3 separate regions of the Homo sapiens genome follow, and regions 1 and 3 are each linked to region 2. Evidence: fine-mapped expression QTL. A gene starts in region 2. Each other region holds a variant in brackets. All regions are shown on one strand. Distances are from middle to middle.

Region 1 (8,187 bases), 120 kb after region 2:
CCCAAAGTTAGTTACAACTTTCCTGTTCTCTGACATCCATAAACAGACTTTAAGAAAAGACTAGTCATTCATGAGTGTGTAAGTGTAAAGAGAACCATTCATCATGGTTTGTGGGCTTTTCTGCCGATGTGGCCTAGTGCTCCGTGATGCACACTGTGCCTTGTGTGTGAGGACTGACTGTATCTGGTGACAGAGTGAAGGATGGATGCGAGGGGAGAGAGACCAGGGACTAGAAGACCACTTAGGAGGTTCTTACAAAACTCAGGGTGAAACCTGTCAGAGTCCTGAACTGAGGCAGGGTAATGAGGCTGGGGAGGAGGAAACGAATGTAAAGGATGGCATACTGCAGAGTTTGAACCTATGGACGAGGATAATATGATTTTGAGATTAAGAAAGAGCCAGGGATTAAAGATGAAGCTTCTTCCCAGGGTGTCTGGTTGCATATGGTGGTGCCCCTTCATGGAGATCAGTAATCACAGGAGGAGGAGAAGTTTGGGGTGTTGAGAGAGATACTGAGTTCACTTTAGGACCTGATGAGTTTAAGGTGCTTGTGACATATCTAGGTGGAAATACCAAGCTGCTGCCAGGTAATCTCAGGTAAGTGAGAGGATCACTTAAGCCCGGGAGTTTGAGGCTGCAGTGAGCCATGATTACACTGCACTCCAGCCTGGCAATAGAGTGAGACCCCATCTCTTAAATAAAATAATAATAATAATAATAATAATAAGAAGAAGAAGAAGAAGAAGAAATACCAGGCTGACAGTTGAGATTGTGGACCCGATTCTCAGGAGACAAGGTCAGTACCAGAGATATTTGGGAGTCCCCTTAATAGACACTTGGGTTGAAACAGAAGTGACACTAAGTGAAAAGCAAGTTAAATTAGAAGAGGATCAGGGCAGGGAAGAAGAATCCAAAAGGTTTCCCAGAGACAGGCAGGAGAATCGACAGGCTGCTTTGTCATAGATGCTGAGGGAGGGAAGGTCGAGGAAAGAAAGAGAGTCAGTGATGAAAGCTGCCCCGAGGATGAGCAGGAGGAGCCCTTGGAAGGGCCCCCCTCTGTTTGATAATCAACAAATCTTTCCCCATCATAGGAAAATAAAAGAATGAAGCAATGCCTGGAAGAAGAACTGAAATCAAGAAGGGACCTAGAAAAGCTGGTGCGGAGGCTTTTGAAGCAAACAGATGAGTGTATTCGAGGCGAGTCCAGTAGCAAGACCTCAATTCTTCCATAACCATCACTGTGCCACTGGGTGGAGTGTGCCTTCAGGGCATCTTGAAATGTCCCGCTGAATGATTTGACTCAGTTTGCTCACTTCTTTGGCTTTTGTTTTGTGTTTGAGTCTCTCTCTCTCTCTCCCTCTCTCTTCTCTTTCTCTCCCCGCTGTGTGCATATGTGTGTGCGTGCACGTGCGCGCTTGGGCATTTGCTGTTGTTTGGTTATTGGTTGGTTGTTCATTTTTTTTTTCAACAGGTGAAAAAGCAGGAAGTGGTGGTAGAGATGGCCTCAGAGTCTTTTCCATTCAGTAAGAAAGAGAAAGGGAATGCAGGCCAGTTACTTAAAAGGTCTTCAGATTGCCTTCAGTTCACAGTGCCTCTGCAACAGCCATTGCCCTCAGGTCACATTCTTTGGGCTGGCTGCCCTTGCAAAGCAGCTGGCCAAGGCTTATTAAATGTGAACCCAACTTTTCCCCAGGGCTTTCCTGTACCTGCAAGCCTCTTAGTACTTAATTTACCGAAGGCAAATCTTCCAGACTATGGCTTGAGTAGGATGAAAGACAAACACATCTGCCCAATGATCCAGCTGCCCTTCCTTAGACCATCACATGCCTCCCCTCAATCACAGGTTTTAAAATTACTGCCCTATGTTGTCTATAAGACCAAGAAAACTGTAGTACCCTTATTCCTTTTGTGTCATGTAAATTGTAACTCAGGGGGGCAGAAGCTCTGGTCACCCACACCAACACCAAATCCATCAGCAAATTCTACTGGACAATCCTCCCTTTTAGTAGCAGAGTTGACCGCCTTTTCCCATTGCATGATAGGTTTCTTTCCCTCATTCTGCCTAGTGTGTAAGTTTTCTATTTCCCCAGTACTTTTAGCCAACCTTACCAAGTGGTGTGTAAACTAGTATGTATGTGCTTTGCTTACTTTTTAAAAAAATGTAGTTAGACTGTGAGGAGTTACTTTATGTACGTTGCATATTCAAACTGTGATGTTTTATCCTTCAAAACAATCTGCATTAAGAAGATATTGTGCCCTACTAGACAGCTTTCATTCACTTTATTACTCTCTCATATATGCTGTGAGAAGTTGTAATATTAATTGGCCTCTTTGGGTGGGACTCTAAGCAGTATTTGCAGAAATATGCTTCTGGTCCAACTTGTACATCCAGAACAAAAGGGCCCCTCTAGTAGCTGTGTGCTGGATTATTCAGGACTGATTAACTCAAGTTGCTCATTGAATCACATCATCCACTTTATCCCAGAAACTAGAACTGTGAGAAACCAGGTTTAGAAGACAGTCACAGAACAGCACACATCCAAATTCAGCGCCATTGAAAGTTGGCCTAAGGCTCAGTGCCACTCACCCCTCCCTCCCCAAAAGACAAGAGAAATTTGGCCAGATGGGGAAGGTCACTGGAAATTGAGGCCAAAGGGCTGATCAGAATTGCCTTTATAATATATTTGATGGATGCCTATAAATGTGGGTTTTGCAAATATTGTTTAAAAACCAAACTTGAAGCCAGGCATGGTGGCCCACACCTGTGGTCCCAGCTACTCAGGAGGCTGAGGTGGGAGGATCATTTGAGCCCAGGAGGTCAAGGCTGCAGTGAGCTGTGATGACACCACTGCACTCCAACCTAGGTAACAGAGAGACACCTCTGTCTCTGAAAAAACAAAACTTGAAGTTTGAAACCCCCAGCTTGCTGAGGAGCCCTTTTTATTTTTGGTACTGAGAGTCTCAAGGTCCCATAGCTACATGGTACAGGGCTGTTGTCTGCTTGCTGCACAGCAGAAATTACACCATCCACAGGAAATGGACTATTTTTGCAGTCCAACATCAGCCAACCACACACAGCCGTGTTTGGAAGCTGAAGAGTAAAGAAATTTCTAGGAATGGCTGTTGTTCTGTTTTTTAGCACAGCCATTTAGATATAACATCCTTCACTTAAAAATTAAAAACATCAGTACTACCACCACCACCAACAACATCAACACAGATCTTCACATCTGCCCATTCTGTGGTTAGTCAATGGCTTGCAATAAATGTGCAAACTGCATCTATAGGAAACATTTTTGTGATTACGGAATACTTTAGTTGATTGCTGAAAATATTGAAAGGTCTTCATTTTACAGTGATGAGTACATATGCATGTTTCGGGGACTTGGCCCTTCTGATGAGGGGCCCTCGGTACTCTGGATAACGAAGCTTGTGCAGAGTGGTAACCATGCTTACACACTAAACTATAATATAAAGGAAATGAAGCCATGTTAATCTGAGAGCAGTGTCGCCATAGTTGTGTTGTTTACAATACTCTATAAATGGGTTCCTGTTGCCCTGTAATTAAACTGCTGCC[C/T]GTAGAGGCCTTTCAGTTCCTTTTCTGTCCTTCCCCTTCTTAACACAAGCTCAAATTTTCTAACTTGTTTTTATTTTGAAGACTTTTAAAATGGACATTTTCAATACATAAAAATAAACAGTGCTTTATAAAAATAAGTCTTTTGCTTCTTTTTTTGCTAGCCGGTGTGCAGAAAGATTTCTTGTGCTGTGTCAGCTTCCTCTCCCATTTCCCTCATTAGCTAGTCTGCTCTCACCAAGCCCTCTAGCCAGTCTCAACCTTTTTCACTCAGGGCAGATGACATTTGCTCCCAACTTTACAGAGATAATACATGCCCTGAGACAGAACCTTCCTTAACTTCTCTACCTCTCTTCTTCTGGCCCAAACCTATAAATTATATCCCTGCTCACCATCTGCTTTTTGATATTAGAGAAAAATGTATTTTCCTGCTCAAGCTTATCCCTTGATATTTATTCCTGTCCTGATTCCTCTTTGAATTTGGCAGGATTTTGTCAATCAGTGATAATCCTATATTTTGACCACAGTTGGAATGCTGGTGTCAGCACTCAGGATGGAAATATTCGTTCCACTTAAAGATTGATGAGGTGGAAATTATCTGCTGCTCCACATGCATTCCTACCCCTTTTCTGTTTCTTTCCAAAAACATAAAGGCTGAAAAATCAATTTCCCAGACTCCCTTGCAGCTAGGGTTCTGGATAAAATGTGGGTTCAGATACATGTTCACTTCTGCCAACAAAATTTGGAAGGCTTAAGTTGGGCAGAGGCTATCTTCTTGGGGTTTGGTGGCCAGCAGGTGATTCCAAAGATGTGTTTGTGGCTTCTGTACTCCACATTCCAGTGTGTCTATTCACAGCTTTGTGAGTGAGAGACTGTAGTGGTGGCAGCAGCCTCCTAACATGTGGATCACAACTGCAATGATATGACCTTGAAGCCATTAGTCCAGTGGCAGCCTCCTGACTTCCCCTGACTTCCACTTATGTAGCCCAATGGTTTTGTAGACAACTGATTATCTTTCTGCCTGAGATACCTTCAGTGGTTTATGATTCCTGCTCTGAGCCAATAGATAGAACATGGCATCTCATGTGTGCTAGGCACTGTACTAAGTGGTTTACACGATTAAGCTCATGTAAGCCTCACAACAACCTTATTAAGTATTTACTATTGTTATCTCCACTTACAAATGAACAGAGGCACAGAGATGTTGAGTAACTTGCTAGTACATGGTGGAGCTGGAATTTGAAACCTTAGTCTGTCTGACTCTTGGACCCATGCTCTCTCTATCACGTATCCTCCTGCACACTTGGTACATGCTAAGGTTCCTACCTTAGCCATCCACCTTTGTGAAGTCACTATTAAGCTTATAATTGACAAATCCATTGGCTTTTCGATCCTCACCTTGACGTCTCTGCAGTATTTGACCCTTGCCTTCTTGATGAATCTCTCCTTCCTTGGTTTTCATGAGCCCACACTTTCTTGGCATTCATTCAGTCACCCCTCAGTCTCCTTTGCTGGACCTGCCTCCTTAGGCTGTCCCCTGAACATTGCTGATCCTCTTTTCCTCGTCTCTTCCAATCTATAGCCTATTCCTAGACAACCTTGACTACCCCCATAACTTCATTTATCAAAATGCAGATGACTCCCATGTCCACAGTTTTCCATTCTGACTTTTCTCCTGATCTCCAGACCCATGGATGCAGCTACCTTATAGATAACTCAGTGGAACTGCAGGAGTGGGGCAGTTTCCTGAAAGTTACTGAATTGCTTGAAGAATGACTCAGAGGAGTGTGAAAGTGTGGTATGGAAGGGGGAGGTTTGTGTGCTGATGCCCCTTAGACTGGGAATCAATGGTCATCGTCTTTTAAAGAAACATTCCTAAATATAGAACTTCGGCTGGGCTCGGTGGCTCATGCCTGTAATCCCAGCACTTTGGGAGGCTGAGGCGGGCGGATTACAAGGTCAGGAGATCGAGGCCATTCTGGCCAACATGGTGAAACCCCATCTCTCCTAAAATACAAAAAAAAAAAAAAATTAACTGGGCGTGGTGGCATGCACCTGCAGCCCCAGCTACTCGGGAGGCTGAGGCAGGGGAATCGCTTGAACCTGGGAGGCAGAGGTTGCAGTGAGCCGAGATCATGCCATTGCACTCCAGTCCAGCCTGGCAACAGAGTAAGACTCCATCTAAATATATATATATATATATATAACATATATAATATATATATATAATATATAATATATATAATATATATATATAATATATATAATATATATATAATATATATAATATATATATATAATATATATATATGTAATCTTCTCAAACCTACTGAAAAATTTGGCAACTCCAAGCCCCCAGCGCTTAGCAGTTTTTGACAATAAAACTATACCATAAAAAAAGGGTCTTTGCTATCCACAGGTCTACTGTAATGTTTGCTTTTTCTTTCTTTCTTTTTTTTGGTTTCACTTTGCTTCACATTGGGTGTGGTCTTTGGTCTAGTACATGAGCATAGGCTCTCATGTGTACCTGGGTTGCCAGGCATTCTCCTTGGTCTCAGAAGTTTCAACCATTTAAGATGGCACCCTGTCCACTTGCACCACTGAATGCAGACAGGTGTGCTGGGGACCATGTAGAGACCCACCTTAGTGCTTCTTACATGATGATCTTCTCCAGAGAGCAGATTCTGCTGGGGACTTTCTGTGGACAATCTCACTGAATCTTTATAAACTTTTTTTTTTTTTTTTTGAGATGCAGTCTTGCTTCTGTCGCCCAGGCTGGAGTGCACAGGCACCATCTTGGCTTACTGCAACCTCCCCCTCCTGGGTACAAGTGATTCTGCTGCCTTAGCCTCCCACGTAGCTGAGATTACAGGCACACACCACCATGCTGGGCTAATTTTTGTGTTTTTAGTAGAGACAGCGTTTTGCTGTGTTGGCCAGGCTAGTCTCGAACTCCTGACCTCAAGTGATCCACCTGCCTCAGCCTCCCAAACTGCTGGGATTACAGGCGTGAGCCACCATGCCTGGCCCAGCATGTCTTCTTTTTATTCCCACTTTACAGATGAAGACACAGAGGACTAGAGGAGGTGAAATGACTTGCCTGTACTTATAAAGCTGGTTAATAGTGGAGCCTAGATTAAGACTGTATCTGTCTGACTCGAGATTTAACTACTACACTACAATGAGCATTTCTGGTTTTGTTTTGTTTTAGTGGGGATGTGATTCACAGAGAAAAATAACATAAAAATCATACTTAGTTCCATGTTTCTGTGTCTCAAAGTACTTCAGACTACTTTAAAAGTCTAAAGCAGTGCAGTTCCCAACACAGTGGCATTGGGCCCTGTGAAAATAGTTGAATGTAGCACAGAATGTATTCTCTCCTGAAGCCCAAAAGTTTACATGTCATTTCCGTTTAAGTGGGGGCACCCCTGTTCTGACAGCTTGCTAGAGCACACTGTTTGCGTTTTGTGGTCATTTGCTAACCATCAAATAACAGAGGCAGTAATATTTTATCCTTGTTTATTTTCTCTTTATCTAGAAATAATTATTTGGTATTTCAAACATTCCCACCCTCCCCCTTAGATAGAAGGCAGAAGTGACATGATTATAAAAATGGAACTAAGTTAGATAATTTATGATCAGACTATTACAGGTACATCAGAAATGTACTCGAGTCTTTTTCATTTATAGGAAAATGCTGAAAATGTTCAATTGAAGTTTGGAACAAACATATATTATTTTGCAAATTATCATGAAATGTATAATAAAAACATATTATCTGTTTTTAGCTACAGCATAATTCTCAGTCATTTTTTACTCCATGAGTGCATTTTTATCATCCAGATATTTTTGACCTAATGAGGATCCTTTCAGTGTAGCAAATTTTTGCCTCAGCCAACACACAGAATTATTTTCTGGGCTATTGAGTTATAAGCAGCTGTATTTATTCATTCATTTATTCCTTCATGCACCAAATAAAGGGCCAATTCAATGCTAGGTCCTGTGGTAGACGCTGAAGTTATCATGGTGAATGGGACAAGGTCTTGGTCCTCAAGAAGCTCACAGCATAGTAGGGAAAACTTCAACCATGATAAGTGCTGTGAAGCACTTGCTAAGTGCAGGGTGCAGTGAGGGAGAGAAATGGGTCTTGCAAGAAGAGAAAACAGCATTCCAGGGCCCTAAGGTAGGAAAGCATTTGTAACCTTGCTTAGAGGAACTGAGGGCTAGAACTTAAGAGACCGAGAGAGGTGGCAGCAGGAGATGAAATTGATTATTTTGGTCTTTATTCCAAGGTTCATAAGAAGCAGGGGACTGGCTGTGCATGGAGAATTGATGGAAGGGAGCAAGAGTGGAGGCAGGGAATCTAGGAGGCTGTTGTACTATTCCAGAAGAGAGATGGTGACAGTTGGGACTAGGATAGAAATAGTAGAGATAGAAAGAAGTAGATTAAGGACTACTTAAGAGATAGGGTTGATGAGCATAGGCTGGAGGGATTGAACATGGGGGTGATGAGAGTGAAGTCAAGCCAGGTTTCTGACTTGAAAAACTGGGTAGATAAAGACACCATTCATTGGACTGGGAAACATTGAACACAGATCCCATTGTGTGGGGGG
Region 2 (8,187 bases):
GAGTGCAATGGCACGATCTCAGCTCACTGCAAACTCTGACTCCCAGGTTCAAGCGATTCTCCTGCCTCAGCCTCCAGAGTAGCTGGGATTACAGATGCCCGCCACCATGCCTGGCTAATTTTTGTATTTTTATTAGAGACTGGGTTTCACCATGTTGGCCAGACTGGTCTCAAACTCCTGACCTCAGGTGATTTGCCCACCTTGGCCTCCCAAAGTACTGGGATTACAGGTGTGAACCACCGTGCCCAGCCTACTACATAGTAATTTTAACAAGAAGAGTTTAACATAAAGAATTAACAATAACAGGGGATTGGAGTGTTGAAGAATTGGTTAGTAATAAATAAAGGAAACTCTAAAAAGTATGGGATAGCAGATATAAATAGCAGACAATATAAAAATAATATGTAATGGCCGATACCTCTAGAGCTGTGATAACCCTCCTCTCCACCCACGGTCGAGATCCAGGCCTTATTGGAGAAGTTGCTCTGGTGCTGAGTTGGTGGAACTTGTTGGATGTACATTCTCTGGAACTTGCTGAAATATACCCCTCTACGGTGCTGGTTCACATGGAAGGTGTCTGTCTCATCAGAGATTCTTTGCTGCCTAAACACTCAAGGGTAGTGCCTGGGGAGGTTGCTACCTACTGTTTGTTGGGAAAACCAGTGCTGCAGAAGGTGGGCAATAGGAAAGCTGGGAGCTCAGCAGGAGCTTGTGGAGTGAGCGCACAGAAAACAGGAAGTAAAACCCCTTCTTCCTGCAATGTCTCTCCACCACTGCCTACTGATAAAACTTTGTATCATGCCAGCTGGCAAAGTCAGAAATATTTCAAGGTCCCAGGTCCATTTCACAGAATAGGCATAAAGGGGAAATGAGAGGTAATAAATTGATTACAGGTTGAGAAGTTCAAGGAACTGAGAGGTCTTGATGTTGGATTGTTGTTCTTGTGGATATTGAAATGACCCAAGTGTTGGCAGAAATTAGAGTGGTGTAGAAGGTTAGAGACCAATAAACTCATTTCTCTAAGTGTGACCTTGGTCTATCTGCATCAGAATCAAGTGGGATACTTTGATAACACAAATTCCTTTTTCCCACTGCAGATCTTCTGAACTGGAGTATCTGGGAAGAGAGCTCCCAAATATTCTTTTTTAGTAAGTGCCTTAGTAGATTTGAAATGAAAGAGAATCGGTTAGTAACATTTTAAACACACAAAACTAAATAGTAAAACAGGTACCAGTGTACCCAGCATTCAGTCTTAACAAATGTTCACATTTGCCTTATTTCCTGAAGATCTTTTGATTTTTCATGAAATGTTACCTATTTTAGCTTAAGTTCCACTCTCACCTTCCTTTCTCCTTTATGCCTCACAGGAGATGATCATATGAACATTGTTTTTTGTCAATTCCTGCTTTAGGCAATAGAGAGCCTTTGAGGGTTTTTGAACAGGGGTATTAACACTAGAGGTGTTTTTGGAAAATCAACCCAAATGTGCCCTGTTAGAGAGTTCATTAGGATGAGAGGATGGAGGTGGAAAGCCCTTGAAGAGGCAGGTTCAGTGGCCCAGAGGGTGTGGTACTGAGGATCTGAGGTAGGGTGAGAGATCTTTGCTTTTTTTTCTCATGCTCTTGTGTGAAGCCTGCTCTTTGTGTTGCTGTGACCCCCAGTCTTTGAATTCCCCCTCTTCCCCTATTCCCTCAGTTCATCAGCTCCTTTCTAGCTTCATTTGAGTCCCTAACCAGCCTGGGTTTCATGGGTACCCATTTCACCTATATGCTTGCCACTGCCCTGGAATTCCTTGCTTTGTTGACATTTTACCACACCAACTGTAACTTCCAATCTTTATACAAATAGAACTGGTTCTTTTGCCTTGAGGCAGTGGCCTTGCCATTCTGATATACTTTATTACTCATAGTAATATTTGCTATAGTGAGTGTCCAAAATGAGGCAGAGTTTTATCCAGATGACCTTGGTGAACTCAAGACTGTTTTGGAGGAGGCTGGGTTCACAAAACTTACTCAGGCTTTGTTCTTCATCAGAAGATGTAAGTGATACCTCAATAATACTGCCAGATTTTGTTTGTCTGTAGAGTAAAATTTTGATGAGCAGTTGTGAAAACTGTTCAGATGACATATAAAAATGTGTTTAAGTTCGTCAGATTTGGGAATTTTATTTATCAACAAATGTATTCTGTTTTTATTTCCATTACATAGATTTGGCCATGGGTCAACGTCAATGAAAACTTTTGATTGATTATACTTATTTTGCTTAAGTCACAAGTACATCAAGCAAACCTTGTTATAGAACTATGGACAGACACAATAACATGAATGAGTATGAAAATGATGATGTTGAGTTAAGAAGCCAGAAAAAAGATAGTACCATACTGTGTACTTCCATTTATATAAGATTCTTGAAAATGCAAACTAATCTATAGACACTGAAAATAGATTGGTGGTTGCCTGGCATTTGGAGGCAAAGAGGAAAGAAAGAATTGAAAGGGCACGAGGACAATTTTGGGGGTGATGGAAAGGCTTATCTGGATTGCATTTGTGTGATTGTATCAAAGATGTATGTATATGTCAAAATTCATTAAATCATATATATGCAGTTCCTTATGTGTCAATTACAGCTTAATAAAATGGTAAAAATCATTAACAAGAAAAAATGTTTGTTTTAAGCCATTTAAACCAACCAACAAACAAAAAATCCTTGCTATAATCAGTTACTGTCTATATCAGGGACACCATCTGAATACATTCATTTATTCATTCAGCATTTTTTAACATCTACTGTGTATACCTGGCAGTCTGCTGGTAACACAGTGTTAAATAAAAAAAAACAAGACCCCGAGTTTAGGAAGTTTACATTCTTGTGGAGGAGTCAGATCATCAGATCAACAAGTGATAATAGTAAAGTGTGACAAGTGTCCTGACAGAGCAAGAAAGGGCAGCTTTGAAAATGTTTAGTAGGGTTATCTAAGCTGATTCTTTGGTAGTAGATGCCTGAAGCTGTGTTGAAAAGAATTCTGAGGCTTAGTAGGAAAGAGCTATACATGATCTGATGTCTCCCATGCACGAGGAGAGGTAATCATGGTAAGTGCCACACATTTGCCAACATAGGGTTATACTATTAAAGTTGGCCTTATCATAAATTTCCCAATAGTATGCCTATTTCAAGTGGTTCTGAAAATGTTTGAGAATGATGAAGATCTCTTGTTATAGACAGTTTTTTTTTCAGAGCAGTATTTTAAGTGCAAAGTGTTTTTTTGTTGTTGTTGTTGTTGGGAAAATAAGAATCTTCCATATTGTAGTGTAGACAGAGGACAAGTGCTCTTTTGTTCTCAAACATTCTATTTTTTCAAGTGTATTTTACCCACTTATGTGACTGAGTCTGAGCCTTTGCTAAGGGTACTGCAGCTGGATTATGTAGTGGAACCAGGTCCAGAAAAAGAATTGCTAAAGAATGCAAGTAAACAGGATGTCAGATGTTATCCTTAGCCTATTTCCCTAAACATAGCTTTTTGGCTGCAAAGTAAAATGCCATTCTTCTAGCTTCTGCTTATACACAGTGATGGCTGACAGCAGGCATAATCTTCGTTTGCTTGGCACGTTGTCACCATGCAACTCAACGTGTTTTGCAAGGAATGATCGTGACACACCATCTCTGGGAGATACTATGAGGACATCCGGCTATTTCTTGGAAGAATTTTCTGTCTACCTTCTTTGAGCCCTGTTGTGCCAGCACATCTCCCCATGAGGCTCAGATCTGTCTGACCTAAGAGCCAGTTGGCATCGTCCTCCTAACAGAAGCCAGATTTTCACTGGGGCTAGACTATTTATTGACAGTGTTTTCCCAGACTGGCCCATGAGTGTCTCATTTCCAAGGTCCCCTGAAGTGCTGGCTCACCTCTGTTTCCCAAAGCACTTGCTTGCTTGTCTCTCCTCCCTCCCCAGCATCCTTTTCACTTTCTTCCCTTATAACTTCTTGCACTCTGTGTGCGTGTGTGTGTATGCGTGTGTGCATGTGCGTTTCTTCTTTTTTTTTATCCTAACGAATTTGTTTTGCAGGTTTTGAAAAGGAAAAACCAGCGTTATCCAGGATTGTTAAATTAATTCTTATCTGTTTCCACATCTTGGACCGTGATCTCTGTGGTTTTAAAATCCCATATTTTGAGTGGGTTCCGCTGTTGTTTAAGAAAAGTTGCTTTAAACCTTTGCTCTGCAAGCACCCGAAGAGAACTCATAAAAAGGAAGACAACAGCAGATGCAATCGCGGATGTGGCTTAGTCCTTGCAGCTGCCCCAGAGTGCTGTTTGGAGTGTACCGTCCTCAGTAATGAATCCAGAAGAACAAATCGTGACATGGCTTATATCTTTGGGAGTTTTAGAGTCCCCTAAAAAGACCATCTGTGATCCGGAGGAGTTTTTAAAGTCCTCGCTGAAAAATGGGGTAGTTCTGTGCAAACTGATCAACAGACTCATGCCTGGCTCTGTGGAAAAGGTAAGGGAAATTTGCAGTCTCTTTGGGATTGCTTATCACCAGAGAGCAGCAATCATGTAACTCTTGAGATTTTTCTATTTCCCAGGCCATGGGAATCTCCTACTTTAATATTTTTCTAAGAGTTAGACATTCTTTCTTACTGTTTTTGTAGTTTGAAAATGTAAGAAAATGAAACGTTATTCTTTAGTAATTGGCCCCCAAATTGTAGTATAGGGAAAACCTGTGACACCACTGGCAACAAGGGACAAGGAGAACACTCATATCACAAGCTTGCTCTATCATGGAGATGCATGTTACATCTCCTTGTGTACCGAGGACATGTTTTGAACTTGGGGTACTTATGAGTCTGTGGAAAAATAGAATGATTTATAACAGATCTTGGTGGTGTTTATTGGCAGTTTGATTAAAATCAGTGTAGATTTCCTTTTAGAAAAATCCATTGAAGGAGAGACTATATAGCAACTAGGAAAAAAATAATTCAAAATGTCACATAAAGTTTGTAAAAGCAATAGAAACCAGATATATGTTTCGAATGCAATGTGCGTTCAAAGTGAAACTAACTTTACTCTCTTTAAAACAATTCAAGATTTTTAATAGCTGGAAATCCACGATCACGAGAATAGATAATTTCTAAAGTAGGCACTTTAAGTAAGCTTAAAGGTACAATTTTACATTTACTTTCTTAAGGTCATCATGGACTGTGAGCATAGCACTTTTGCCTTCATGAGCCAGTTTGTATTTTTATTGAGCAAATAAATTTACTTATAATTTCTTAAACTTGAGAAAGAGTGATTAAATAGTGATAAAATGTAAAGAAGTGTGGTCAAATGTAGAGGGGAAATAGAATTTTATTAAATTATCAGGGGGAAGGAGGAGAGAGAGGTACCAGGGATTGCTTCCTTTCTTGAAAGCAAGAACTAAGCTCAAAAAACTGTCTTGGTCTCCCTAATTTGCCATCAGCACACTGGAACAGAAGGCATGAGAGAAAGCTTGTAAGTAGACATGGCTTGCCACTAAAGGTTTGGTGACATTTGAAACAAAGATCGACCGTTTAGATTTTTGCATCACTTCCTTCAGTGGTTATTTCTCTTCCTGGATTGACAGCAGTGTTGCCCCACACCTTAAGAGGCCTGCTTTCTCTAGTTATCAGCAAATGATGAGTATACTTTGCTTGGCATGGGATGACAATCTCCAAGTGACATTTCACTGTGTTCCTCTAGTTTTGTCTGGATCCCCAAACTGAAGCTGACTGCATCAACAACATCAATGACTTCCTGAAAGGATGTGCAACCCTCCAAGTGGAAGTAAGCCTACCCCGGGTGCCTTCCCTGTTGTCATCGTTTTTTTGCTCTGCTAATCAAGATTGGTAGTAAGAGTACTTGTTTATTTTCACTGTCATTGGCCACTGAGTTAAACAGAGGTAGCAGACTGGTGGTCCCCAGTAATGGATTGCTAGTCTGTCTTTTCCAGAAACCAGTTCCAAGCAAAACAAAACAAAATAAAAACTCACACAATAATGCCTTTTATATACAGCATCCAAGCCCTGTAAACAGGCTTCCAGTGACAGAGCTTGTGTGGGTGTGTTCTCCTACTAAGGGGAACCAAAAGTGGGCCACTGACTGTTGGAGAGGGTCACTGTAATCCTCCCAAGTTGAGAAAAGAGGAAAGGCCATTGTTACTCCTTCCCATTAACACTTTAGAACAGAGGCCTTGAAAAGCTGAGAGAACTTGGCTTTGAGGTAGAAATTGTATAGTAAATTTTGTGGCATTATTTTATATTATATGGATCCCTACAGTGTGTATAGGAAGTGTTACTGAAAGGGAGGTGATACTTCCACACGAGCATCAAGTTGCTTAACTTCTCTGTGCTTCAGTATTTTTATCTGTAAAACGGACATGCTAATAGCCAACTCATGGGATTGCTTTAAGAATCAAATAAGGCCGGGCATGATGGCTCATGCCTTTAATCCTAGGCCAAGGCAGAAGGATTGCTATAGCCCAGGAGTTCGAGACCAGCCTGGACAGTATGGTGAAATGGTGACTCTACAAAAAATACAAAAATTAGGCAGGCGTGGTGGCTTGTGCCTGTAGTCCCAGCTACTCGGGAGGCTGAGGTGGGAGGATCGCTTGAACCCAAGAGGTGGTGGAGGTTGCAGTGAGCTGTGATTGCACCACTGCACTCCAGCCTGAATGACAGAAAGAGACCTTGTCTCGAAAAAAAAAAAAAGAATCAAATAAGATACTGCATAATAATTTAGGGCCAAGAGCTCCAACCTTGTAAGATCTATGAGATAATTTATGTAGAGTCCTTAGCATAGGGCCTGGGACAGAAGAAGTACTCTATATTAATAGACTAGTATTAGTCATATTATCCGTGGACAAATAGTTGTGGTTTAAGCATGGACTGTGGTGCTAAACTTTTTGGGTTCAAATCTCAGTTCTCTCTTACTAGCAGCTTTGTGACCTTGGGCATGTTACTTAACTATGACTCTAGGCCTCAGTCTTCCTACCTACAAAATGGGAATAATAGTGGCACCGAATTCATAGGACTCGTGTGACCTTTTTAAAAAATATTATTTCAATAGTTTGGGAGGAACAGGTAGGTGGTGTTTGGTTACATGGATAAGTTATTCAGTGGTGATTTCTGAGATTTTGGTGCATCCATCACTTGAGCAGTGTACACTGTACCCAATGTAGAGTCTTTTATCCCTCACCCTACTCCCACCCTTCCCCCTGAGTCCCCAGAGCCCATTACATCATTCCTATGCCTTTGCATCCTCATAGCTTAGCTCCCCCTTATAAGTGAGAACATATGATGTTTGGTTTTCCATTCCTGAGTTACTTCCCTTAGAATAATGGTCTCCACCTCCACCCAGGTTGTCGTGAATGCCATTATTTTGTTCCTTCTTATGGCTGAGTAGTATTCCATGGTGTGTGTGTGTGTGTGTGTGTGTGTATGTATACATATTATATATATGTATATTACATTTTCTTTATCCACTCTTTGGCTGATGGGCATTTAGGCTGGGTCCATAACTTTGCAATTGCAAATTGTGCTACTATAAATATGTGTGTGCAAGTGTCCTTTTCATATAGTGACTTCTTTTCCTCTGGGTAGATACTCAGTAGTAGGATTACTGGATCAAATGGTAGTTCTACTTTTACTTCTTTAAGGAATCTCCATACTTAAGGTTTTCCATAGTGGTTGTACTAGTTTACATTCCCACCAGCAGTGTAGAAGTGTTTCCTTTTCACCACATTCATGCCAACATCTAATATTTTTTGTTTTTTTTTTAATTGTGGCCATTTCTGCAGGAGTGAGGTGATATCTCATTGTGGTTTGATTTGCATTTCCAGTGCTTAGTGATGTTGAGCATTTTTTCATATGTTTCTTGGCCATTTGTATATGTTCTTTGAGAATTGTCTATTCATGTCCTTAGCCCACTTTTTGATGGGATTATTTGTTTTTTGTTTTTGTTTTGTTTTGTTTTTTGAGACTGAGTCTCACTCTGTTGCCCAAGCTGGAATGCAGTGGTGTGATCTTGGCTCACTGCAACCTCTACCTCCCTGGTTCCAGCGATTCTCCTGCCTCAGCCTCCTGAGTAGCTGGGAATACAGGCGCCCGCCACCATGCCTGGCTAATTTTTGTGTTGTTAGTAGAGACAGGGTTTCACTATGTTGGCCAGGCTGG
Region 3 (8,187 bases), 38 kb after region 2:
CAAATGCTTGAATTTTTCATGGCTTAGGATTTAAAATATACCTATCATAGATGTTATTCTAATGCCCTTAATATAATGATAAGAACTAAGAAACTATTCCATTCAAAGCTCTGAATCACCAACTGAGTATAACAAAACAGAGAAGAAAAAGGAAAGACCAGTTCCCTTTTTCATAGAGTTTACAAAATACAGCCGTCACTTCCCTTTCCCCACTAGAGACATATTTTTCTCATTGTTTTATGTATGCCTTTGTCCATGTAAAGGAACCCCTCAGTAGCCTTGCACCAAAAATGAAATCTTGGGGTCATAGGGAGTGAAAATAATATCTTTTATTTAAATGTTTAACACCTACCACACTAGAGGTATTAAATATAAATGCTAGTAAATGTGAAGAAAATGATGATACACTTAGAATGTAGCTTCACTCCTTCCCTGGTATATTTTACCAACAGCTGAATAGTAATAATCATACTTAAAATGCTTTGAGCTCTTGCCCTGGATCTAGGCTGTCATAAGAGCCACAGGTGATCTCATCCAATCCTTGAAACAACACTGGGGGTAGGTATTATTATTATTAGGTCCATATTACAGATAAGGAAAGTCAGGCCAACAGTTGCCCAACTAGAAAGTTAGTCGCTGAGTTGGGATTCAGACCCACATCTGAATGACTACAGAGCCCTTATGCCCAAGCACGAGGCTTGCTGCTCAAACTGTTGTAGAGTCAAGAGGCTGTGTGCCCAGCATCGCCAGGTGCTACAAAAAATGTCAAAGCTATGGTCCCTGCCTTTGAGAAAATTACTGTCTATTTAAGGAGACTCAACTTACCCACGTGAAACAATTAGAGGACAAGAGCAGACAATATAATCAAGTGCCAAATAGGTTAGAGCATCTAGGAAGCTATCGAGTAATTATAGTTTTTGTCAAAAGAGCTGTATATAATAGCAATACAAGTAAAAATACTTCTCCAAAGTTGTTCTTTTGCTATTTGGAAAAAAAAATGCTTTTGAGCTATTGCAAGGCGTATAGCTGAAAGTACAGCTAATTCAAGTAACTATATTTAACACACATGACAACTATCCAGTTCTAGTCAGGGAGGATCGTGTAATTCTAACATTATGCCACACAAATTATACGTTCCTTTGCCAAACTCTCCTAGCAAGTTTTACAGTCTCTTCCCTTGCCACAGATATTTATAAAATACAAGGAGGTGAAAGTTAAAACCCACAGCATCAAGGAAATTACTTGGATACTGAGCTTGTCGCCTAGGGAATGTTTGGGCTTTAGACTTTTGCAGTTTATATCTTTTAAAAATAAATGGAGAGGAAAAGAACCCTTATTGAAATTTGTCAAGAAGCCAGCTCCTCTCTTTTGTATACTCTCAACAAACTGAAAACATCCAGCTCAGCTCTGGCCTGGTCGAATTTCACAAGGTTTCAAGGAAGAGAAGACTCTTGAATCTGATTGTTAAAAAAATTATTCTAGTATCAAGATTACATCTTTCCCAAACACATCTTCTCTTTCACTCTCATTCTCCACCCTGCCCCACACACATCAGGGAGATTTTACATCATATATGCCACACATATTGTTACGTGTGAGTAAGAAATGAGCCACTGAGTTATGGGCCAAAAAACAAAGAGAGAAATTTGAAATATTTCAAAGTAATAAGAGCCACAAACAGCTGTTTGGTACCCAATATAGTTCTGCCTTGGATAACAGGGCATACTGTTGCAACTGGTTCAGGAGGGAAGAGTTGTAGGGAAATGGTTAAGAGAAAATGTGGTTCTGTCGCTGTTTTTCATTCTACTGGAGCACGATGGCCAGTAAGGTTAAGAACAGGAAGTTGGCCACCAAAAAGGGAAGGGGGATTGAAATACACTTGGCATGTTCATAATGATAACAGTTAGAATTACAGCCAGGATGCCTCTGATAGTATCCTGAGAAAGATAATGTTATGCGGTAGATGTTTTTCTGATCTGAGTGGTTCCTTTAACATGCCTTTTCCTCTTTTCACAGATCAGCTATCAGAAAGACCATGTGGACGTTCCTCTTCTCTTAGTGCTGCTAATACTTCTCAGACAAACCCACAGGGAGCAGTTTCTAGCACAGTTTCAGGGCTGCAAAGGCAGTCAAAGACAGTGGTAAGTATAGTCCCCAATTCTCCGTCTGTTTTAAAATCCATAAAATTAGATTGATATCCTAGTTGCATCTCCATATGTGGTGAGACAGCCATCCGGGTTGTTTTGGGCATCACTGAGAAAACTAATTATAAACCGAGCACCAATTCAGGCTGGCCCGAAGGAGCAAATCAAAGGCATGTGGTGGGGCAAAAATCCGGATTGAAGCTCCAGCTCTGTCCCTTACGAGAATTAGGCAAGTCACTTAACTGAGAATGCTATGCAAATGGAAGTCATTATGGCTACTTTCTGATGGCAGTTTGCTGTTAATTTCCCTATCCCTTGTTTTATTAGAACTAAATAGTGCCTGACACATAGTAGGCAATCAATAAATATTGATTAGTATCCTCATTATTATTGCCATTTTTATTTTTCTCTTTCCATTCCTAATGAGGAAGGCTTGATTTTAAATTTCAGTCTATGATGAGCTTCTATATTAGGATCTCCCAGTTGCCTTTTCACTTGCTCTTATTGGGAGCTTTTATTTGGGAGGAAATGCCTCATCTTCTGCTCTTTGGGTGAAACCTTTATTTCCTGTCAAAAGCCACCCACTTGCAGTAAGACATTATGACCTATTACTTCCAAAGCACTTGAGCATGTGGTTCTTAACTTTTTTGGATCACAGATCCCTTTGAAAGGCTGATGAACACTATGTCTCTACACCCCTGGTACCCTCTCAAATTGTATACAAAAGCCCATGTGTATGAACTTATTTAGACAAAAATATGTTGTGCTCATCAGATTCTCTAAAGGGTCTGTGACCCTCAAAAAGGAAGTCCAGTTTATACATGACAGATTAAGAATTCCTGACTTAATATATCCATGTAATAAAACTGCAGTTGTACCCCCTAAATCTATAAAAATAAAAAAATGGAAAAAAGAATTCCTGACTTAGGCAACTATGGGTTATTTGATCTTTGCATATAAATAAGTCTTAGCCAAATTAAGATATCCTTAGTAATTAGGAGATGGGAGGCAGATTTTATGGAGGGTAGGTTAGTACATCTTGGTTATATAATTATGTGGACTGTTTGTGTGTTGAGTAGAGGCAGGGTGGAATAGCTTATCCAGGGTGGAATAGCTTATCACTCTACTTTGTTATCTGGCTTAGTTAAATAGATAATCTTTAGATAATGGGGAGGGGTGTGGAGAGAAAAATGAAAGCTATGACCCACTTCAAAATACAGATTCTCACAAATGCCAAAGTTTACATACTGTTTTGAGGGATTTATTAATCCCTCTGAGACCCATTCATGGATTCCTAAGTTAAAAACTCAGGACTGAGATGGATCTGGGGTTTTGTCTTTGCTTCCTCCACTTTATTTGCCTATATCCATATCATTTCTACCCCTGCCTTATTTAGATGAGTGCTTAATCTGGTGTGGCTTTTGTTTCTCTAGGAGATGACGGAAAATGGAAGTCATCAGTTGATAGTAAAAGCAAGATTCAACTTTAAGCAGACTAATGAGGATGAACTGTCAGTTTGTAAGGGGGACATCATTTACGTCACACGAGTTGAAGAAGGAGGCTGGTGGGAAGGCACATTAAATGGGAGAACAGGCTGGTTCCCCAGTAATTATGTCCGTGAAATTAAATCCAGTGGTAAGTGAAGTTTTTAAAAGGCTTTTTGATTGTGACTCTTGTACTTTCTTGGTATTCTTACTGAAAATTGTGTAGTTTTAATTGGTTAACAGAAGCTGTTTATACTTGTATGTGTATGCCAAAAATAAGAGTAGAACAGAACTGGGAAAAATCTGTGATTAGATATTTTGAAACAAATTGTATTTAGATTACATTAAGGCAGCAGAAAAATAAAAAAAGCAAAGGAATTCAAAGCTCAGACAACTGGTCCACCCTAACTGTATCCCTTTATGTCTACTAATTCTAGCCCATGTAATATAGTACATAGTCCT[TCTC/C]ACCACTCTAAAACTTACCATGGCAGAATCCAATAATAAGAGAGGCCATGTGCTAACTTCCTTTTTTTAGCCTTAAGCCCTGTAAGCAGACCTGAGACTAAATGCCTCAGACATGAGAGATAATAATGATAGGGCTGCAGGAAGCTGTCTGGCCGCTTTGATGCTGAACAAGATTGCCCTTAACTCACTGAATACTGCTAGCTGTTTACCTTTTTTTTGTAACAATAGCCAGAGAATGAAATCGAATTGCTCTTCAGTAGTCTTTTCTTCTCTCTCTCTCTTTTTTTAATTATTATTTTTAGACAGGGTCTCACTCTGTTGCCCAGGCAGAGTGCAGTGGCTATCACAACTCACTGCAGCCTGGACCTCCCGGGCTCAAGTGATCTTCTTGCCTCAGCCTCCCAAGTATTTGGGACTACAGGTGCACGCCTTCCACACCCAGCTAATGTTTAAACTTTTTGTAGAGACGGATCTGCCTGTGTTGCCCAGGCTGGTCTTGAACTCCTGGGCTCAAGTGATCTTCCTGTGTCGGCCTCCCACGGTGCTGGGATTACAGGCATAAGCCACTGTGCCTGGCCACTCTTCAGTAGTTTTCCTTAGAGTTTTTTTGATAATTCACTTGCCCTTTATTGTTTAAGAAGGTAGGCTCTTCTGATATTGCAAAAAACCCAGCAAACCCTTATACATAAGAATATGTCCCTCACAATACACATAAAACAGCATTTAGTTATTCACATTATTACATCTCTTTACTTTTCAAAAATATTTACACAAGGGCTCTTTTGAGTGGTTAGCTCAGCGCATTATTTCTTTTGTAAATATCTTATTGCTTTTTCAATGCCTCAAAATTGATACTATTAATTAATTAATAAAATTTTAGGCTCACTGTAAGTAAAATGAAACATTCTGGAAATATACGGTTGACTCTATTTTTTTTTGTTGTTGTTGTTTTGAGACGGAGTCTTGCTCTGTCACCCAGGCTGGAGTGCAGTGGCGCAATCTCGGCTTGCTGCACACTCCGCCTCCCGGGTTCACGCCATTCTCCTGCCTCAGCCTCCCCAGCAGCTGGGACTACAGGCGCCTGCCACCACGCCTGGCTAAATTTTGTATTTTTAGTAGAGATGGGGTTTCACCGTGTTAGCCAGGATGGTCTTGATCTCCTGACCTTGTGATCCGCCCGCCTCAGCCTCCCAAAGTGCTGGGATTACAGGCGTGAGCCACTGCGCCTGGCTACAGTTGACTCTTGAACAACATGGGGATTAAGGGCACCGAGCCCCCATGCAGTTGAAAATCCGTATATAACTCTGAGCTCTTGAGAGCTGAAAATTTCTGATTCATTTTGATATTCTTGAAGGCTGGCACCTGAGTGGCATCTCATTAAGGGCTCAATTCATTCAATATGGAGCAGGTACTGGATGAGACACTAAGAATATCAAGAAGCATTCCATCAATTTCATCAAGAGGGAAATATGTGAATATTTGGAGGCAGCTGTCTTTCTCCAGAGTAACTTGGTAGGATTTCCCACACTTTCCTTGCCTTCTCTAGAATGATTTCAATACATAAATTTCCTTCTTCAAACATGTGGAACTTGAAGACCCTTAAAGGCAGTAGGATCATTAGGGCTTATTAGTTACTTCTAGATTCTAGTGTTCAGAGCATTGCTTTATTTTCATCACTGCCCTAAAGTTACGACTTTAAGACTGAGAATAAATAAAACACACACACACACACAAAAAAAAAAAAAGAAAAGAAAATCCATGTATAACTTTTGACTCCTCCAAAACTTAACTTCTAATAGCCTACTGTTGGTTGGAAGCCTTACTGATTGTATGTTATATGTATTGTATACTGTGTTCTTATAATAAAGTAAGCTAGGGAAAAGAAAATGTTATTAAGAAAATCATAAAGAAGAGAAAATACATTTACTCTTAGTTAAGTGGAAGTAGATCATCATAAAGGTCTTCATTTTCATTGTCTTCACGTATAAATGGGATGGGCCTGCAAAGTTCAAACCCATGTTGTTCAAGGGTCAGCTGTATAATGTAGATAATGAAAGTTCCTCTTCTCTTTGCACTCTCCCCCCGACAACCAGAGTTAGGAGCTTTTTCCTAAAGTGTTTAAGATAAAATTAATTTTCACACTTTTCTGTGTTCTATGTTGTGTTAAAAGGGGTATCCCCTTTAATGGAATATGTTTACTAACAGATTTATAATTATATACGTATATGGAGACTTCTTAGCATTTTTAATTACTGGGAATCAAGAAGGTTCTATTGAGCCCTGGAGTATTTCCACAGGCTTTGCCTGGAATTTCCTTGGTTTTGATGATATTCACAGACGATTTTTACCTCTCACTACATCTTTCAATCGATATAATTTTGTTGATATAATTTAGGAAAATCCCTAAAAGATTTTCCAGGTTCACTCTAACATTGTTCCCTGATACAGTGTCTTTATCTGCAAAACTAAAAGGAGCAGTAATTTTGTCCAGGAATCCCAAGCACTGCGAGGGGACCTGGGAAGTGAACAGCACACCCTCACTTTGACGACTCTCCTTATAATGTCCCTCACTGTGACTCCTTGTAGCAGTCTGGCCACTCCCTTATAGACTGCCCCAGGTTATTTGTTCTGGTCTTAGGGGCCTTCATTTTAAAATTTCTCCTATATTCTCTCTGGTTTAGGACTCAGCTTAGGATTCATGTGGCAAGCTCCGACTCTGACTTGAGCACTTAGGTAACCCTTAGAAGCATCTAACCCAACTGTCAAGGACAGGTCTGAGTTGCTTGGGTCAGGAAATGAGTGCTAGTCAGGGAAGGCCTGGAACTAGCAGTGTATGGAACAACCTCTCTCATTTAGCTTATGGCAGCAGCTTCCTAATTGGCATCTCTGCCCCTGTTTTTGTCACTCCTATAATCCAGTCTAAACTCAGTACCCAGAGTGATTCTTTCAAAATGTAACTTGGGGCCGGGCACGGTGGCTCATGTCTGTAATCCCAACACTTTGGGAGGCTGAGGCGGGCGGATCACTTGAGGTTAGGAATTCGCGATCAGCCTGGGCAACATGGAGAAACACCATCTCTACTAAAAATACAAAAATTAGCTGGGCATGGTGGCGCATGCCTATAGTCCTAGCTACTTGGGAGGCTAAGGCAGGAGAATAGTTTGAATCGAGGAGGCGGAGGTTGCAGTGAGCTGAGATCGTGCCACTGCACTCCAGCCTGGGTGACAGAGTGAGACTCTGTCTAAAAATAATAATAATAATAATAATGTAACTTGGGTCATGGCTCCCCATCTCAATAAAAGAAAAGGCCAAGGCCATCACAATAGCCTCCAAGGTCCTCCAGGATCTGGCCTTCCGTTGCCCTTTTGGCTTCCTCTCTGATCTCTCTTCCCCTCACTCATTCCACTTTAGCCACACTGGTCTCTTGGCTGCCTGTGCCAGACAGGCTCCTGCCTCACTTGCTGTCCCCCTGTCTGGAACATTCTCCAGCTATCAGCACAGCTGGCTCCCTCATCTCCTTCAGGTCCACTCACTTGCCTACTTCACAGGAGGGCCTTTCCTGGTCACCCAGGAGAAAATTTAACCCTATCCCCACTCCCTCTATCCCTCTTCCCTGCTTAAATTTTTTGCTTATTATTTTTCCCCGTCTAACATAATACACGTTTACTTATTTATTTCATTTACTGTTTACATTTTACCATTAGAATTGTAAATACCACAAGGGCAGAGACTTCATTCGTTTTGTTTATGCTCAGTAAATATTTGTAAAATGAATGAATATTACAGCGTAGGTAATTCAATTCTGTTCAGCTTGTTCACTGAGTACCTCCTAGGCGCAATCTATACCTCATAGACCCCGTCCCCTAGCACCTTTACAGTCTAGTAATCAACACAGGTCTGTGCAGAACTAACTGTTACAGGCCAGGACACAGTAAGTAGCACAGACAAAGGACTGAGTAAGATGCTGTAGGAACAGTGAAGAAACAATTTGATTAACAATAACATAAGGAGTGGGGAAGCACTTGAATTGGGTCTTGAAGGATAGAAGAAGCTTCTGACTGGGAGAAGAAGATCAGAGGGAACTTTTAAGTTCA

Which allele goes with the higher level. Alleles are on the strand shown, and positions count from the first base shown. SD is a standard deviation of normalised expression in the study named. Not every link is listed here.
As copies of C replace T in region 1, the expression in monocytes after interferon gamma of the gene that starts at base 4,282 in region 2 goes up (large effect, 0.85 SD a copy in Fairfax 2014).

The links.
Region 1: its variant is fine-mapped to the expression of ARHGEF6 in monocytes after interferon gamma (Fairfax 2014, PIP 0.95).
Region 3: its variant is fine-mapped to the expression of ARHGEF6 in nasal epithelium (TOPMed, PIP 0.91).

What each region holds. Positions count from the first base shown.
Region 1 is chrX:136,661,074-136,669,260 of GRCh38, reverse strand. It overlaps ARHGEF6 (Rac/Cdc42 guanine nucleotide exchange factor 6), which reads left to right. Exons shown (of 22, transcript NM_004840.3): 22 at 1,092-3,711. The coding sequence ends at 1,232. Among named protein-coding and RNA genes, the nearest start is that of CD40LG, 17 kb to the right of the region's middle. RefSeq lists an enhancer at 2,887-2,976. The variant C/T (reference allele first, on the strand shown) is at 3,578.
Region 2 is chrX:136,777,027-136,785,213 of GRCh38, reverse strand. It overlaps ARHGEF6 (Rac/Cdc42 guanine nucleotide exchange factor 6), which reads left to right and starts at 4,282. Exons shown (of 22, transcript NM_004840.3): 1 at 4,282-4,496; 2 at 5,717-5,800. The coding sequence starts at 4,332. RefSeq lists an enhancer at 5,627-5,846.
Region 3 is chrX:136,739,177-136,747,363 of GRCh38, reverse strand. ARHGEF6 (Rac/Cdc42 guanine nucleotide exchange factor 6) reads left to right here. Exons shown (of 22, transcript NM_004840.3): 4 at 2,017-2,141; 5 at 3,578-3,779. Among named protein-coding and RNA genes, the nearest start is that of ARHGEF6, 38 kb to the left of the region's middle. The variant TCTC/C (reference allele first, on the strand shown) is at 4,091.